5 linked regions of the Homo sapiens genome follow. The protein of the gene in region 5 purifies or fractionates together with the protein of the main gene of each other region. This does not show direct contact. Each region holds a gene or a part of one and is shown on either strand. Other genes may lie near its edges.

Region 1 (3,500 bases), on a different chromosome or scaffold from region 5:
CTTTGTCATGGAGGAGGATTAGTTACTAAATGTGGGGAAAAGGGAGCTACATTTTGAACAAAGTATAACTACTCAGAAAGATGTAGAACTAAGTTAATACCCAATGACTGAGACTTTAGGGCTCATGATGAAAGACATGAACTACTGTAAAAAATGGGGAAATCTATCCCACATAAAGAGGCAAGGAAGAACTACGTAAGGGACTTGCCAACAGGCTCAACTAACAGGTGTCTGGGCTCATTCTGCAGTATATAAAAGAATTTGACCAGCATCAGTATTTTCCAAGGAATGCCTAAGAGTTTACTGGGGAGGGAAACAAGAAAATAGGAATGGGATGGCAGAAACATACCTTTTAGGCAGCTTTGTTGGAAACAGTTTACAAACAAGGTGGAGAAAACCTTTATTTATCCCTAAGGATCACTCAGACTCAAGCCTCTGAAAACTGAAGCCAATGGTCCTTGCTTTAAGGATCACTCTGCTTGTTTTGGTAGATGACAAAGAACCAGGAATGTGTAAGGAGTCCTGTTTCCATGTTTCCAGAACACGTTTCTGTAGAAGCTAAATTATAAGGATGCATAGTAGTATAGTGATTAGGCCAACAGGATACTCAAACCATTGGCAATCTACTTTTGGCCCCAGCGACTAAATCTTCCAGAGATATTTCAAATATATTTTAGAATATGTAAGTTGAGCAAAGGTTAGAATAAATTTTATTATTTAAAAGATTAGTCATTTTTAGTTTAATCTAGGAAAACTGATAGACTTTTATATCTCTGGTTTTATGTTTGCTATGTTTATTTCTTTGAAAGTACTCTGAATACTCTCACAGTTGAGAATAAAGCAAGGGTTGTTATTAAAATATTTTTCTTGCACTGAAGTATGCTCCCTTTACACTTCAGTAAGTCTAAACTAAAAGAGAAAGCAGCAACTTGATTGGCTACATGGATCAGTATTTTGTTAACATTACCAAAACATATAATCGTATCTCCATTTGAGAAATAAACTTCCTATGTTATATTCTACAGAATCTGGAAACCCTTCTACATCCTTAGCTGAGCTTACGAGAATATAAGGTAAACTACAGGTCAGTGGCTGATGCCATCCTTACATTCCTGGGGGTGTAGAAGGGTGTGCCAGTCTCTATAACCAATGAATTTGTATTTTTAACACCCATAAGAAAAGAGAGATCTTGGATCCCTGCAAAGTGGGAACCTGGAACTGAGATGCTCACATAAAGCTCTGAGACTCCCAAATGGGTGACATGCTCAGTGAAAAGATAGCTTAAAAAAGAGAGAGAGGGAATAAACCACTGAACCAACACAGTGATGATGAGAAAGGACGTTGTTTCAACTGGATGGAGAGAAGATTGCTGTTACCCTGAAAATTAGTATCCAAGCCATACGGTATGGCTGTCCTTAGGCTTTGGGATAGAACTGTAGCTTTAGGACATTAAACCCAGATTTAGTTCTAACAAACATTAAACCCAGATTTAGTTCCAGCAAATGCTTTCCCCAAGACATGCAGCAGATAAAGTAAACACAAATCTGCTTTAGAATAACTTGCCATCAATCTACATCCAGGAAAATTTATCTGGATAAGTTCATAAAACAAACTTACAAAATATACATTAAAAATGTACTATAAGCAAGAGCCAAAAAAACAAAATAAATAGAAAAATTAGAAATCTCCCTCTGCCTAAGAAAATTTAAATAATGGTTTTATATCTGATACAGGTAAAAATAATAAAATAAAAAAGTCACAATTCTTTTAAAAAGTGGGAAAGTTAATGTTACATACTATACATCATATACATTCCTAAAATTGTAGAAAACAAACTCCTGGATGATTAATGGGGAATGCTTTCCCACAAGTTCAAAACACTCCTTTTTCCTCCCACCAGATACAGAGAATAAACAATAAAAATTCCCAAGACTTTAATATATCATCCAATTAATATCTAGTTTTATGCATTTAATTACTAAAGTGACGGTGATATTAAAAGTGTGGCCAATAACTGAGGCTTTTCAGAGTACACTGAAGATATATACACACCAAATTCTAATTTTACAGAGCTTGTTCTTCAATCCGAAAACAACTGATGCTTTCTTTTTTTTTTTAAGATGGGGTCTTGCTCAGTTGCCTAGGCTGGAGTGAAGTGGCGCGATGTTGGATCACTGCAGCCTCCATCTCCCAAGTTCAAGCAATTCTCCCACCTCAGCCTCCAGAATAGCTGGGATTACAGGCGCATCACCACTCCTGGGTAATTTTTGTATTTTTAGTAGATACGGGGTTTCACCATGTTGGCCAGGCTGGTCCCAAACTCGTGACCTCAGGTGATCCACCCTCCTCAGCCTCCCAAAGTGCTGGGATTACAGGCATGAGCCACCGCGCCCGGCCTCAACTGATGCATTTTTATTCACTCAGAAATATGATCTAGAATAGTTACAAGAAAATGTTTTGCAGCAGAACTAAAAGATACCATATCCCTTATGTTATAACTTTACTGCTTTAACCAACTATCTCTATACCAACTGATATGTTATTTATGTATCAGGTTTCTGAAGCCAGCTTTGAGGTGTTTCATCCTCAGGCAGAGACAAGTAAAAACTATTCTCAAAAGTCACCACCAAAAGACTCATAGGCAAACCAGACTGTTTTGGTGTTACAATTTATTAACTTCTCAAAGTAAACGGCTGTTATGATTTACTAACTTCTCAAAGTAAACAAGGTATAATAAGTGAATATTATGTGAATAAGTGCAAATAAATTATAGTCATTAAGCATATGACCACGTCAGGTGGATATACTTAAAGACTGGAGGTAATTTTAATTTTCATTGTTAACTTTTGTGACAAAACCATTAAAAAATATTCGGACAGAAATGAATGGGTCAGAAATGCTTCTGAGGCTTTATAATTTACAAACTGCTGGCCAGGTGTGGTGGCTCATGCCTGTAATCCCAGCACTTTGGGAGGCTGAGGCGGGCGGATCACAAGGTCAGTAGTTCGAGACCAGCCTGACCAACAAGGTGAAACCCCGTCTCTACTAAAAATACAAAAATAAGCCAGGCGTGGTGGCACACGCCTATAATCCCAGCTACTCAGGAGGCTGAGGCAGGAGAATTGCTTGAACCTGGGAGCCAGAGGTTGCAGTGAGCCGAGATTGCACCACTGCACTCCAGCCCGGGCGATGGAGCGAGACTCCATCTTAAAAAAAATTAAAAAAAAAAAAAAAAAAAGCTAGAGTTGCAGGGGTTCTTGAAGTTCATTTACTGTTGGATTTTGAAGACTATTAAGATGTACAAGGAAATTATAAAACTTGTAATTCCCTTAAACACATAGGTTAAAAAATCAGGAGACTAGAAAAATGCCAAGAAACTTTACCTCCCAACATCACAAACCTCTGTTATTCCAAGTCATTAAAAAAACAGTTCTTTCTTTTCTAAGTGCTCTCTGGATTACCACTGAAGAGTCTATACTCTTTGATTAAGGTGCTGGTGT
Region 2 (4,298 bases), on a different chromosome or scaffold from region 5:
ACTGATAAAACCAAACTTGAATATGACAATTTCATAGGGCATAAGCAAATTCCATGGACTCCTTACATTTATGGTCCTAGATTAATAATATTTTGGTGTTTGAACAGAGTATTTGTAATCTATGTAAGTAAAGGACATGAGGGGAAACACACTTTACTTTCTAAAATTATTCCTCTCCATCACCCTCTTTCTCTAAGCCTTCTTTAATTATGGATTGAAATTTAGTTAGGTCTATCTGGTTCATTCAGATACCTGTAAGAGAGGTCATTTATAGCATAACATCACACCAGGTGATTTAAGCTCCTCTCCTACACAGTTTCAAATACAGAAAAGCAATGACCATTCTTAGAAAAGATCTTCACTAGTCATCCACAGTCAGAGGGACATTTAGAAGCAATTGCAAAAACTGTGGAGACAACGTACAGTTTTTCTCAGCACAATTTACATAGATGTCTGGCTAGCTCTTCCTTGTAAAAGTCCAGTGTCTTCATTTGATGTGCTAAGTTAAACTGTAAACTCCTGAATAATTTGAACTCTTATTTAGGAAAAAAATGTTTTTTCACCTATATACTATAAAAAATGGTGACGTTTATCACAAGGGTCATGCCGTGGGCTCCCATAAAAGACATTGTAGAGCACGATAAAGAACGTTTTCTCCCAGAAGAACATTTATTTCTAAAACCCAGTTCCCCATGTTAAACATCACCTTTGGTTTATCCTTCAGACTCACCGTACCCATGATGTTTAAAATTGCAACCCACACCTGCACTCCCAATTCCCTTTCTCTGTTCTCCTTTTTCATTTTTTCATAGCATTTGTACTTTTCTAACCTAATATACAAATATGTTTTTTATCATTCTTTGCTAGAATGTAAGCTCCAGAGGGAAGGGATCTTTGTCTCTTTTGTTCATTGATGCATCCCAAGCATCAAGGACAGGACGTGATAGAAAATCAATTTTTGTTGAATAAATGAATGAATCTAGGTTGAGTTCAGTAAAAAAATATCTCTGGAGTAAGTTAGTTTCCAATTTTATTTCTACAATTAACAAATACCTTCTGAGCTTCAATTATGGTGGAGATAGATTGATCATACCCTTACAAATATATAATATCAGATGGTGATTAAGTGCTACAAAGCCGAACCAGCAGTACAAGAGTTTGGAGAGCCAGACATTTTAGGTGAGGTAGTCACCTCTCTGAAATGATGGCAATTGTTTCAAGACTTAAATAAAGTTCTGTGCCATGCAGATTTGCGAAGAGTGGGAAAGTGAGCATTGAGCATACTGGAAATACCAAACGCAGACGCCCTGGGATGAGGGTCCGCTTGGCGAGCCCAGCAAGAGCAATAAGGCCTGAGTGGTGGAAGTGGGGTATGCAAGAACGTATCATTCTTGTTGCTTTTACCTGCTGCTTAATAACACGCATGTACTGTCTAGCAGGAAATAAAGAGATTACGTTTCACCTAGAATACTCATTCTCTGAGCCTAAGTGGCTCTTCTATTCCAGCCCCCAAATATCTGTATCAGCACATCATATAAGATTACAAAGCACAGAGTAATGACATTGTTAGAAACTCTTCACAGTAGCCCCAGGAGTCACGAAACTGACTTAACTAAGACCCACTGTCTAGTAAGGTGTAAAACCCAGCAGGAACGCAATACTAGGAAGGTGCAAAGCCAGGAGGCTCAATAAACGTTAAACAGTGTCTGGGGGAAAGAGCAACGATCCAGAGCACTGTTTGTGAACTCAACCACTTTTATTCAGCTCTGACAAGGTAAGTCGCCAAGCGCGGTACAAAGTAGCTCCATGAAATGCGTTTTGTTATAGTCCTGGTCTCGAACTGTTGCAACATTTTATGTAATTTTTGCAAAGAACAAAAGCAAAAAGTTCATTCTAAATTAGCCTTCCAACTCAGTTCTTTCTCCGCCAAGACGGAGCACTTGGAAAGTTTTCAATGTCTGAAAACCTCTATTTCCAGGGCTGAGCAGAGCACTATGTTGCGGCTTAAGACGCTCGGCGATTTCTTCCCATCCCTCCGCAGTTCCAAAACGGCTTCGCCTAACAAAGTCAAACTTTTCGCGCTATTCCTGGACATCAGGACCAAATGTCGAAAGCATATACTGCCACTGAGTTAGTGAGCCGGGCCGGTGCCCGGGACCTGGGGTACTAGATTTATGGGACGGGAGCCTAGGGGTCGAGGCCACAGAAATGAAAACATCGGCAACATATGCAGTGCAGCGAGTGGGTTAGGAGGGAGAAACTTCAGGCAGGACGCTCCCTCGGGACCTGTGACGCCCCCCCAGCCACACCAGACGTGGGAGCTTAGGATGAGAGCGGCCTCCGAGCAGATGATCACCCTGGAACGACGCCAAACGCGACCCCTACCAGAGGACTCGCGCATGCGCAGCGCAGCCTGGGCCGGCGGCCTGGGCAGGATGTAGTCGCGAGCAGCGCACCGGGCCCACGCCAGCGGAATTGCGCATGCGCAGGGCCGCCTCTGCCTGCGGCCTGGGCTGGGTGTAGCCCCGGAACCTAGCTCTTAACTCCCGCCAGCAGTTTTACGCATGCGCGACGACGCCTAGGCCTGTGGCACGGTCGCGGCTCTAGTCCCCTGGGCCCCTCAGCTGTCTCTGGCGGGGAGGTCGGGCCGCAGGGGCGGGGAGGGGTGGCCTGCCCCAGTGGTACCTGACAGCATCCCACGTCACGGCCGCGATCCCCCTCGGCCTCCCACACCACTCCTCCACCCTCTTACCTCCTCGCAGGCCGGAGCCTTGTCCGCTCCGCCTCCTGGGTAGCGGTTACTGCACGGTCAGGGGCCCGGCGCCGCGATGAGTTGGCGCCTCCCCCTGAAACGGCCCGGCCTCGGCGGGATGCGCTCGGGTGCCCGGCCGAGACGGAAACGAAGGGAGCGCAGACAAGAGGAGGGGGCTGGCGACGGCGTCTCGCCCCTCCTCTCCTCCCTAGGCTGCCCACCGCCGCCCCTCCCCTTTCTCGCAGACGCCCCCTCCCCTCGGAGTTGACCCCCGGGAGTCTCCCATTGGGGCCGCCTCCGCTTTTCCAGGGAGTTCCTCCGTGGGTCACCCCCACCTTCTCCAGGGTTATGTTCTCGCAAATTTTGGGAATTTGTGGATACCCGACCTAGAAGGATAAGGCGTGTATGATGCTGAGAGCAACCTTTTCCACAGCCCCTCTCCTCCAGCCTGCCCCAGCTTTTCTTCTATTGCTGGCCCCTCTATCTGGGGGCTCCGATCACTTCACGTTTTCACCCCATTGCTGTGGGGCGGAAGTCTTGTAGCCCCCTGTAGTACAAATGCTGAAATAATGAGGATGTGTGCTGGGGGGTTCAGGGGGATGACCTCAGTTACCTTGGGGCCAAGGGCTTCGAAAACAGCCACCTTCTCCCCTTATGATTATATTTTGCAGTAATTTATTATATTACACTGCACTTCTGTTGGCCTTTGTAGATTTAAGTAAAATGCACCACAACTTTGCAGTGTGCAATAATTTCTTCCACTGCACTACACTTAAATTGACCTGAGTGGGTTTTGGTTAAATGCTCAACAATTAAATGTTATTAGCTATTCCTGTGAAGTAAGCTACTTGCTTTTATACTGGCTGTTTCATGAGGACACTGGTTCCTCTACAGTGTAGAGCCAAAAGTAGTAAAGCCAAAGAGAAAAACTAACATTCCAAACCACAGTGACCGTGTCAGTCTGTTTCGTCTGGCTTTTGTCATTTCTTCGGAAAAACATCATTCTAAAATGTATAACTGCCTTTCTGCTACATAGGGCAGACATTTATCTCTATTCTCTGAGCATAGCCCACTGAGCCTCAGAAGGAGGCACGCAAAATGGTACACAGGTATTTCTTGTAGAGCTCTAAATGGAAGAAAAAGTAAGTATACATTAACAGGAAGTTGCAGCGATAGTGCAGAGAGGCATCGTGTGCCTGCCCCAAGTTTCTCCACTGGTTACATCTTATCAATGAAAGAAATTTATGAGTTAAACAGGTTTGCTCTCAGAAAAAGCTCACTTCAGTGATGATAGCTGGCATTTTTTTTTTAAGCACCTATTGTGTGCCAAGAGGTTTATCTTATTTGGAGCTCACAATAATCCTGTAAGGCAAGGATTATCCTTACTTTACAGATAAGGCAACTCAGGCCCCAAGAGATTAAGTTTCTTTCATCAGCAACCATGGCAAGATCTGTTTGCCTTGCGCACTTGGTCTTTTACGCATTATGGACAGCTGAAGTTCATGCAGGCCTTACGGTGTGCTTCAGCTGAAGCCTGACAATTAGC
Region 3 (3,521 bases), on a different chromosome or scaffold from region 5:
GAAGGTCCCATCCGTAAGGAACACAGAACGGCAGAGGGCAGTGCCATGATATGGCAGAAGGACACGGCCCAAACCAGACAGACCCCATCACTCAACCCCCATGCAAGCTTAAGCAAGTCACTCTCACTCTGAGCCTCAGTCTCCTTGTCTGGAAAATGGGCCACCTCATTCTCAAAACCACAGTGGATGTCACGTACTGGATGTCACGACTTGTATGGCAGGTACTGAGCACAACATTCAATGCTCTTAAGAACAGACCATGTTCCAGACACTGGGCTGGCCCAGAACAGGAGCTCCACCATGGGTGGTGATAACATCAGTGGCCAGGCACAGTGGGTGGAGCACCCGCACTCCAGTCAGGAAGCTGTGGTGCCAGTCCCAGCTCTGTAACCTTACGCCAATCATGGACCTTGCTGGGCCTCATCTATGAAATGAAGTTCTTGGAATCAATGATTTCCCAAGGATCTTCGGCTCTGATGACCAGAAGATGCTGTAGCTTTTTATCTACCTAGGACCTTTGCCCCTGAGTTACTCTAAATGCCTGTCTACAGTTTCTTAGCTGGAAGGTGAACGTATTCACTTTTACACCTGAGAGGCATATTACCTCAGTGCTATTGCTTTCATTACTCCAAAAAGGAGGAGAATGCAACCCTACCTTTACAGCAACAATGATGGTTTGGTTGGCCCCAAAGGGCTCTTGTGCAATCACTTCGATGGTGGATGTCCCGATCATAGACCCTGATGCTAGAAAGCCTTTCTCATCAACATGCACAACTGGAACCTTTTCGGGTCCATCCAGGACGCGGTAGCTCAGAGAGGCTGCACCATCCCTTTGGAAAACAAAACAGAGCTGTTTTTGTAGATGGCAGCAGTGGGAGTGGGCCTGGATACAATGCCAGGAGATCTAAGAGTCTGTGGCTCCTCATGCTCCTGGGAGGAAAAAAGGCCCAATCTTGGCCCCACGGACCTCAGGACCACGTGCCGTCAGTTGTCTGAGGCTTCATCAGTCACCCACGGAAAAGTAATTCAGAAATCCAATGGTTCCGAGCAAAGTGTGGCGTCTCACTCTTCCCAGAGCAGTGCCTGCCGTGGGTCAGCCAGCAGGGAGGGAGAGACTATGAGGGCAGTTTCTTTCATCAGCTCCATGGGACATCTACTGTAAAATATCATTTCTGCAGCAAATTGTTCTCAATTTACTGAAGCAAGGCATCCTGGCATAGTGGAGGATGGGGCTTTGAGTCCGACAGAATCCAAAGCCGGTCCCAACATGTCCTGCCACCAGCTGTGTGCACATTATGTCCCCTCTTCTCTCGGCGTTGACTTCTTACTTGGTAAAAGGTGTGTAATGATCCTGTCTTGTCCTATTTCTAAGGACTGTCAACAGGATAAAAACAGACTACCCGCTAAGAAAACTGTTAGCAAACTACTGATACTATGTACTGGGTAGGAAGCAAATTATGCCGTATCTGTTACCCTTTTACATATTTATTAATATAATAAAGAAACCCAGGAAGCAAAGGCCTCCAGCTCCCACGGCTAGTTTCCATCATCTCTGTCTCTTCCACAGCCCTATAGATGACTAGGAGCAAATGTTATTGCCTCTGCCTAAACATTCTTCCCCCACCAACCCCTTCCTCTTAACCTGGGGAACTCTTATTCATCCTTCAAGAACTGCAGCCCGAGCATCTCCATCTGGGACATGCCTCCCCTAAATCCCCATGGACAGCACCCTTCTTTGGGCTCTGGTTTGAATACTACACCTTGCTTTTTAATAGCCTTCTCCTGCTACCCTCCTCCGGGGCACCCTATGTCACCCATATCTGTGTTCCTGGAGCCCAGCATGGAGCCTGGCACTTTGTTACTTTTGGCTGAATGAAAACATGTATGTGTTTCATGCAACATGTAAGTGTCCTGTGGCCCGTGGAGTCTCCCGCTTGGCAACTGCCATTCAAATGCAAGCCACTGTTACGAAAGGCATCCCCTTGGAATCAAAGGTAGGAATTAGGTTTGCAGAAGAGCTTTAAACAGCTTTTCCCAAGCGTTACTGTGCGGCCCCCTCGCCTGGGGATCTCCCTAGGGTGCAGCTTCTCCCTGGGCAGGTCTGGGGTGGGGCTTGAGAGCTGCATCTTCTCTTCCCGGTGATGCTGATGCTTCTGGCTCATGGGCTACACTCTGAGTGGCAAGTCTTGAAACACAACATTTCTAAGCTGGTGTTTTTTTCCCTTTTAAAGACTGAATTTTAGTACCTCGCATAAAAATGTTTCTAGGCTACAAGGAGGAAAAAGAGACCCACAGTGAGAAGTGATTTCAAGAAGCAGAGGAGCACCACAGAGAAGAGAAGGAGCAGGCAGAGGCCTCACCCATTCCAAGCACAGCAGGAGAAAACCTCCCTGAAAGTACCCATGGCTCCTGACAGTGTTGACACATGAGGTGTCGGATGCAAGCACAGCCGCACAACTTTGCTGGAAACAAGAGCTGAGTCACGTACCTGTTTGTCTGCAGCTTTATATATGAGTTGGGCGACATTAATATTTGTTCTGCTTCTATTTCAGGGTTGAGCAGCTGCAGCTTCTCAAACACCTGCAAGAGAGGGCAAGTTTCACTTCCGATGGGGCACTGGAGTCACATTCAGGCCAGATGTCTGCTTCTCTCCTAGCAGCAAGAGCCGAGGAGGGGCCAGAGAGGAGAAAAGCGGCTTTCTCGTCTGTCAGGTCACTGATGACATGATGTGAAGGGCTGACCTTTAAGAGGCCAAAGGTGTGGCCGGGTAGAGTAGCTCAGCCAAGGCAACACAGCAAACCCTCAGTCTCTACAAAATAATTTTAAAAATTAGCCAGGCATGGAGTGTGCAACTGTAGTCCCAGCTACTTGGGAGGCTGAGGCTTGCACTCCAGTCTGAGCAACAGAGCAAGACCCTATCTCACACACACACACACACATGGCCAAAGATATGATGAGAAAAGACAGGCAGGCTCATGTTTGTGTAGTCTAATGGGAGCTCCTTCAAGGAGCCTGGAAACACAGGCCTCTCCCTCCGTGCCCAGTGAGGAAGAACTTTACCTGCCAGGATGTGAGCGCGGAGGGCAGCACACACAACTCCAGCACCAGGGTTTGCTCAGGATAACTGTGCCAGGACTGAGCCTGGGCAAGGTGCCACCGAACTGCTCCCTTCTCTCACAGAGACATCCTGCTCCTCACTGCCACCATCTCAGAACAACCCCCGTTCCACCTCCCAGGCTCCTCTGGCTGGCTCTGGCCATGTTCTTGCAGGATCCACATAGACACACACAGGGGCCTGGTGAGGAGCTCAGTCCGGCAAATGATCAGCCTCATGAGGTCGGCTCAGATCTGATCCTGGGACGCCCAAGTGCTCCAAGGCCCTGGTGGCTCCCCGAGCCCATGGCAACAGCACTTACCTGGGAACTCCAGGCCCCTTCTCTGCAAGACTTCAGATGTGTCCACCACCTGTGTAAGTCCCCTCTCTCAGGCCCCTCAGGGCTGCTGCCTCCTCGGCCTCCCAG
Region 4 (3,521 bases), on a different chromosome or scaffold from region 5:
GTGTAGAGCCTGCCGGGGAGAAGACCCCATCTTCTCACCACAAGGAAACCCCACAGCAGCCAGTACAGATGAAATCCCACAGGGAGGGAGGAAATTCTCATTTCTTCTCCCCACCCACTACTTCAGTGAATCACTGACTTCCACCTATTCAAAACTCCAATCTGCCAATTTAGCCCTTCTTCTGGAGCCTCTTACATGTTTCATTTCTTTTTTTTTTAGACAGAGTCTCACTCTGTTGCCCAACCTCTGCCTCCCGGATTTAAGCGATTCTCCTGCCTCAGCCTCCCGAGTAGCTGGGACTACAGGCATCCGCCACCACGCCCAGCTGATTTTTGTATTTTTAGTAGAGATGGGGTTTCACCATATTGGCCATGGTGGTCTCAAACTCCTGACCTTGTGATCGGCCCGCCTCGGCCTCCCAAAGTGCCAGGATTACAGGCATGAGCCACCACACCCAGCCATCTGTTTCATTTCTAGAACCAATGGGCCTGGGACTAGAATCATGGCTGGGTTTTATTTTCTTGATATTTTTCTATATTCACTAACGCTCTATAGTGAATACATTAATTTTTTTAATTGGAACAAAAAAGGGGAAGAGAGCCAGGCAGAGTGGCTCACACCTATAATGCCAACAGTTTGGGAGGCCAAGACAGAAGAATCGCTTGAAGCCAGGAGTTCACAATACCAGCCTGGGCAACATAGCAAGACCCCATCTCTACAAAATATGAACAAATTAGCCAGGTGTGGTGGTGCCTGCCTGCAATCTCAGCCCCTTGGGAGTCTGAGGTGGGAGGTTCACTTGAGTGCAGGAGATCAAGGCTGCAGTGAGCTGTGATTGCACCACCACACTCCAGCCTGGGGTGACAGAGCAAGACCCTGTCTCTAATTGGAAAAAAGAAAGAAAGAAAATGGGGAAAGAGAACAATAGAAATAAAAAGAACCAATGGCATCATCTGTCCAGACCTACCCTCTGAAGGGAGGCAGGCTGTAATTACCTGCATGTGTACCTACATCCACGTAGGTTGGCCTCAGACCTCTGAAATCCCTGGAAAGCCACTCCTTCCTTCCACTCAGTAGCATAGGATGAAAGGACTAACAAGTGGCAGCCCTGCCAGCAGCTTCCAGCCTTGGGGACCAGCTCTAGAGCCAGCATCCTGCCCGCCCCCGCCCGGGCTCCACGCTCAGCAACCCCAGCGCTGCCCCAGAAAGCAGGCTAGCACAGGGCTCCTACCTGAAACACTGACCTGGGCCCGTCCTGCCGGCTCGCCCTGACCGCTGGTTGGCATTGGCCTGGCTAATGGGATAGATCTGCAGAGCATCCATGCCAATCCTGGGGTTGAAGACCTAGGAGGGGACGGCAAAGAGCTGACGAAGGACAGAGTGAGGGGAAAGTGGAAGTAGGCCTGAGACAAAGGCAAGCCCTGGTTGCTACACATGGCAGAGGAAGAGCCAGGAGGCTCTAGAAATGTTCTCATGAACACCTGAAGAAGTCTTCCCCACAAACACCAGCTCTCTGAGCTCTACTGTTAAATTATCTACCTCATCGAGTATTACAAGGGTTAAACAAACCAAGCACAGTGAGTCAATGTGAGCCTCCCACCACCACCACCACTTCCACGCGCTCCCCACATCCCAGGGCCAGGAGCGAGGCCCTGGCTTCCCACCCCGCAGCTAAGTTAGCTTCTGGTGAACACCCAGGCCTTGCCTCCCATGTCTTCTCTTACCTTTAATTTGCAATAACCAGAATCGATAACAAACATGATGCCGTCAACAGTGAGAGACGTCTCGGCAATATTGGTGGCAACGATGCACTTCCGAACGCCATCTGGAGCCTAGAGCAGGACATACAGGAAGGGAAAAATGAGTCCCTCGAGACAGGAAAGGCTCCGCGAGGGGGAAAAGCCTACCTCCTAGCCCACCCCCTGCCAGGACAGTCACATCCCCTCTCGCTTCCTTTAGAGAACTCCAAGAGCCACTCCTGGACATTCCTGCTGACACACCTTCTGGAAGATTTTGGCCTGGAGGTCAGAAGGCAGCTGAGAGTAGATGGGCAGCACAGCCAGGGCAGGCGCGTTCTCCAGTTCCTCCAGATGCTCCACAATCTGGTCTGAGGTCACCTGAGAGCCCAGGGAGGAGCTGTGAGACACTGGAACCCTAACCTCTCATATGCAAGACACACCCGCTCATCACAGTCGTGACCAAGGCACGCACCTCAATGTCCTCTTGGCCAGGCATGAAGATAAGGATGTCTCCAGGGGCCCCCGACAGGTGCACCTGCAAGGACTGCTTCACTGCAGCCTCCACGTAATCCTCCTGTGGGGTCTGCAACAGCAGTGGGGACACAGTCAGAGGGAGGTACTAGAAGCGCAGGCCGGGCATCTCCTGGGAGCCCAGTGGCCCAGGCACTGCTCTGGAATGGAGCCATGGACTTTGAGGGCCACCACACCTCCACATGGGCCTGACTGCGAGGCCTCTACAAGAGGGCACAGTGCCTCCCTGGGCCCTGTACTTCAGCCTCAAAGAAATAATGAAACAAAACCTCACCCAGAGCAGAGTCCTTTGTCCCCGAGTCCCAGAGCTGCAGGCTGCCCCATTTGCCCCATGGTCCCCAGGAAATCTTCTCCAACCCAGTCCCCTACCCACCCTCCACCCTCCAGCCGGCTTCGCATCAGAGAAGTGCGTGGCATGGAAGGGTCAGTTCGTAACATGGTGGCCTCAATACCTTGCTGAAGAGGATGTCAACAGGGAAGGTACGGCCAGGGATGTGGAAGATGGGGACATTCCCAAAAAAGGCAGCAAACTTCTCCGCATCCATCGTGGCTGATGTGACGATGAGCTTCAGGTCTGAGCGCCGAGCCACTACCTGAGAGAAGAGGCGGCTCGGAGGCCCCCATGGTGGGGACCCTTGGCTCCTGTCCCCCAGTCCCATCAGCACCACCCCCGAGGAAACACAAGCCAAAGCTGACAAATGGGCCTATTCAATTCTTACCAATCATGAAGACTGAAGCAATGGAGCCACTGCCCAGAAAACCCCAAGCCACCCTCAGCAGAGCAAGAACAGCATGAACTACAACCCGAGTCTGAACTGCAACCAGAGGCCTCAGGAACCTCTGGCCTACCAGAGACCCCCTCAGCCCACCTGGAGCAACCCACTAGCTACTGGTGGTGCACTGGTCAACACCCCATGCGCAGAGAGACCAAACCACACAGCCCTCACCTCCCGGAGCAGCCCAAAGAGCACGTCAGTGTTGAGGGAGCGCTCGTGGGCCTCGTCCATGATGATGGCACTGTAGTGATCCAGGTCGGCTTCCCGGAGGGACTCTCGGAGCAGGATCCCGTCAGTCATGTATTTGATCAAGGTGTTCTCTGAAGTGCAGTCTTCAAAGCGGATGGCATAGCCCACCTGGAGGTCAGAGAGATGGCTCAGATGCCCTGGCCACCGGCTCACCACCAGCACACCCCGTACTGGGGTCCGAGTCTTAGCAGATCACACCCTTTAGCAAAAATGGGTGGAAGCTACT
Region 5 (3,521 bases):
ATTTTTCACAAAGGTAGCCTTTTTTCCTGTTTCTAGGACAGTCATATTCCTTCTCTGTTCTGTTTATTCATTCTTTTCGATCATCGCTTTAACAAGGTATTTAGTGTTTTTCTTAATTTTTTTTTTAGTACCGGCTAGATATTCTCAAATATTTGTTATCTATCTATTTCCCAGTTTCTCATTCACCTTTCATTTTGAAAAAATTTTTATTAAGAAATTTAACCAATGCAGAGATCAAATATTCAATTACATTTTTTCTAATTTTTTATAGACTCAATCATTTAACTCTTTAAACGTGATAATACAGTAACAACTAGGTATATTGTTATTTAAGTTTAAATTAAGTTAAATTAAAAATTCAGTTTGTCAATATTAATATTTTAATATTAAAAATATAATCTACATTTTTTAAACAGACTATATTTTTTAGAGAAGTTTTAGGTTTGATTTAGGTAAATTTAGAGCAATGTAGGTAAAACTGAGTGGAAAATACAGTGAGTTCCCATATACCTCAAGCCCACACAAAGTCTCTCCGCTATCAACATCCCTCACTAGAGTAGCACATTTTTTATAGTGAATGAACCAAGAATGACAATCCTTATCATCCAAAAGCCACAGTTTACATTATGTTCACTCTTGGTCTTGTCCATTCTATGGATCTTAACAACCAAATGATGACATGTATTCACCATTATGGTATCATGCAGAATAGTTTCACTGACCTAAAAATCCACTGTGCTTCACTCATTCATCCTTCCTCTCCCTTCTAACCTATGGAGATAGTAAAAAATTGATCTTTTTACTGTCTCTATAGTTTTGCCTTTTCCAGAATGTCATATAGTTGAAATTGTATAGTAACTAGCCTTTTCAGATTGGCTTCTTTTACATAGTAAAATACATTTAGGTTTCTTCCATGTTTTTTCATGGCTGAAAAGTTCATTTCTATTTAGCAATGAATAATATTCCATTATCTGGATGTATCAGTTTATCCATTCACCTACTCAAAGACATCTTGGTTACTTCAATGTTTTGACGAGTATGAATAAACCGACTACAAGCATTCACGTGCAGGTTTTTGTGTGGATGTAAGTTTTCAACTCATTTGGGTAAATACTAATGAGCACAACTGCTGCTTGGTATGTTAAGAGTGTCTAGCTTTCTAAGTAACTGCCCAACTGTCTTCCAAAGTGGCTGTATCATTTTGCATTTCCATTAGCAACAAATTTCCATGAGCAACAAATGAGAGTTCCTGTTACTCCAAATACTCATCAGCAGTTGGTACTGTACTGACCACGTTTTAAGTACTTAGCCACATACTGCTAATGGCTACCATATTGGACAGTCAAACAGAATATTTTCATCATTACACAAAATTTTAATGGAAAAGCTTGCTTAAAACTTTTTTTTTTTTTTTTTTTTTGAGATGGAGTTTCTCTCTTGTTGCCCAGGCTGGATGGAGTGCAATGGCACCATCTCAGCTCACTGCAACATCCGCCTCCTGGGTTCAAGCAATTCTCCTGCCTCAGCCTCCTGAGTAGCTGGGATTACAGGCACCCACCACCACACCCAGCTAATTTTTGTATTTTTAGTAGAGACAGGGTTTCACCATGTTGGCCAGGCTGGTCTCAAACTCCTGTCCTCAGGTGATCCACTCACCTCGGCCTCTCAAAGTGCTGGGATTACAGGCATGAGCCACCGCGCCCGGCCTCTCTGCTTAAAACTTAATTGGTTATACAGTAGGAAATGATGAACTAATATGACAGTGTTTTAACCTCTACATAAATCCATCTCTACTCCCACTGGATTTTGATGGTTCTTTGCTTATCTATATTTGCTCAGAAATTCAAATTCCTGCTCAGCCACTTCTTAACTGTGTGCCCATTAACATATTATTTAACCCCTCTGACTCTCAGTTTCTCATCCTAATTACTCATTAGTTTGGTACAAAGATTAAATTAGATAAGCAGGTAAGATAAATTACAACATTCATCATGTTACGCCCTCATTTGTAAACTCTTCTGGGTTAGAAGTTTGTTTTCTGAATGTTTCAGTTTCATACATTAAAGACCTTTATTAAAAGCAAAAGTATGTATTTACCTGGTCTGGATTTTTGTAACCCAAAAGTAGATTTGCTGCTTTTATATCACCATGAACATATTCATTTTCATGTATATATTCCAGTACATCCAACTGTGAAAATAAATAGATAAAATAAGGTTTACTGCTATTTAGAACTCATGATCAATTTCAACATTTTGAATATAGAATAACATGGGTTTTTTCATATTAACATTGACAAAGCGATGTATTTCACAATTACTGGTTAATTATTCTAAAATATCACATCTTCTGGTTGCTCATCCTAGAAAAAAGTAAAATGATCCTCAAAAATCAAGTATTTTAGTTGAAGTTCCAAAGGAAGAAAATCAAGATTCAAAAATGCTTATGCCTAATTCCTGATAGCCCAGTAGCCAAACCGCACTGCACAAAGAGGAAAAACATAGCATAAAATCAGAGATCTATGGTGAAATAATCTTGAAGCCCACTCAGCAATTCCTCACCTAAGCAATAATTATAAATCAAGCCTTGAGAATCTCAGAACAAAATGCCATGTCCATGAGCAAAGGGAAAGGTATTCTTCCTCTGTATGGTAATAGAAAACTCCTTAGCTTCATCTCTAAAGCCCTTCAGCCTTGCATGTTACATACACTTAGTACTCAATAAACATTTGCTGGCTTCGAGGATGGATAAATGAGAAAATTAATGCATTCTATTTGCTGCATTCCAATCTGGCATAAGCAGCTTCATGCTACTCAAAAGTGAAAAAATGAGACTTAAACAAACCAAATACAAACATATAAGACAAATATGTAGTATAAACAAATGTGTGCCTGAGTGCTATTAAGAGTTCGTTGCTTCTGCTTTGGCAAAGTATATTTTATTCATTGTCACAACTAATTATTGCCACCATCCCAAACTCATAATAAAAACTTCATAGCACCCCCCTACCATCACATGTTTAAAATGTCTGACAATATATTTTGCCATAATTTGCATTGTTATAACTGACAAAAGAAAGGTTATTCTTACAGCAATGAAAGCTTGTTCTGGTATGTAAAACAAAGCTCTAAGGAAAAAGAAGATCAGACTGGAGAACCAAAGCCTAATTGAGTTTGCAGTGCCATACACAGCACATTCTGTCACTTACAGAGCCCATTGTTATCAATTTCACCAAAATAGCCTCTACTCCTAATAACTGATGTCTCTAGGGCAATAATCCTTCATTCTCTAATAATTCCACAAAGGGAAAAGATTTCTATATTGCAAGAAGTAAACAATTTGGAAATGGAGCATGCGAAATAAGTAATTCTTACCATTCGGATACCTAATTGCAGGACAGTTGACTTTTTAAAGGTACCATTCTGGCCTGAGATCTTCTGTAAATCTATTCCTAGTCTTTCCATTACCATAAATCTGTAACTGTAAGAAAAAAGCATCAAAAAGAGATCATCCTGAGAAAG

Evidence for each region.
Region 1: the proteins of VRK2 (region 5) and EIF4G3 purify together in Homo sapiens (affinity purification with mass spectrometry; one large-scale study listed by BioGRID and IntAct). This does not show direct contact.
Region 2: the proteins of VRK2 (region 5) and RCBTB2 purify together in Homo sapiens (affinity purification with mass spectrometry; one large-scale study listed by BioGRID and IntAct). This does not show direct contact.
Region 3: the proteins of VRK2 (region 5) and NUP210 purify together in Homo sapiens (affinity purification with mass spectrometry; one large-scale study listed by BioGRID and IntAct). This does not show direct contact.
Region 4: the proteins of VRK2 (region 5) and DHX38 purify together in Homo sapiens (affinity purification with mass spectrometry; one large-scale study listed by BioGRID and IntAct). This does not show direct contact.

Annotation. Positions count from the first base shown.
Region 1 is NC_000001.11:20,935,898-20,939,397, forward strand, and holds part of EIF4G3 (eukaryotic translation initiation factor 4 gamma 3), read right to left. Parts: intron 1-3,500. UniProt on the Homo sapiens protein: Component of the protein complex eIF4F, which is involved in the recognition of the mRNA cap, ATP-dependent unwinding of 5'-terminal secondary structure and recruitment of mRNA to the ribosome. Functional homolog of EIF4G1.
Region 2 is NC_000013.11:48,530,276-48,534,573, forward strand, and holds the start of RCBTB2 (RCC1 and BTB domain-containing protein 2), read right to left. Parts: upstream 2,806-4,298; 5' UTR 2,753-2,805; intron 1,775-2,752; exon of another isoform or gene 1-1,774.
Region 3 is NC_000003.12:13,329,805-13,333,325, forward strand, and holds part of NUP210 (nuclear pore membrane glycoprotein 210 precursor), read right to left. Parts: intron 2,581-3,521; coding exon 2,489-2,580; intron 831-2,488; coding exon 656-830; intron 1-655. UniProt on the Homo sapiens protein: Nucleoporin essential for nuclear pore assembly and fusion, nuclear pore spacing, as well as structural integrity.
Region 4 is NC_000016.10:72,103,828-72,107,348, reverse strand, and holds part of DHX38 (pre-mRNA-splicing factor ATP-dependent RNA helicase PRP16), read right to left. Parts: intron 3,404-3,521; coding exon 3,218-3,403; intron 2,864-3,217; coding exon 2,723-2,863; intron 2,323-2,722; coding exon 2,212-2,322; intron 2,118-2,211; coding exon 2,001-2,117; intron 1,833-2,000; coding exon 1,725-1,832; intron 1,345-1,724; coding exon 1,232-1,344; intron 10-1,231; coding exon 1-9. UniProt on the Homo sapiens protein: Probable ATP-binding RNA helicase. Involved in pre-mRNA splicing as component of the spliceosome.
Region 5 is NC_000002.12:58,088,300-58,091,820, reverse strand, and holds part of VRK2 (serine/threonine-protein kinase VRK2), read right to left. Parts: intron 3,481-3,521; coding exon 3,375-3,480; intron 2,191-3,374; coding exon 2,098-2,190; intron 1-2,097. UniProt on the Homo sapiens protein: Serine/threonine kinase that regulates several signal transduction pathways.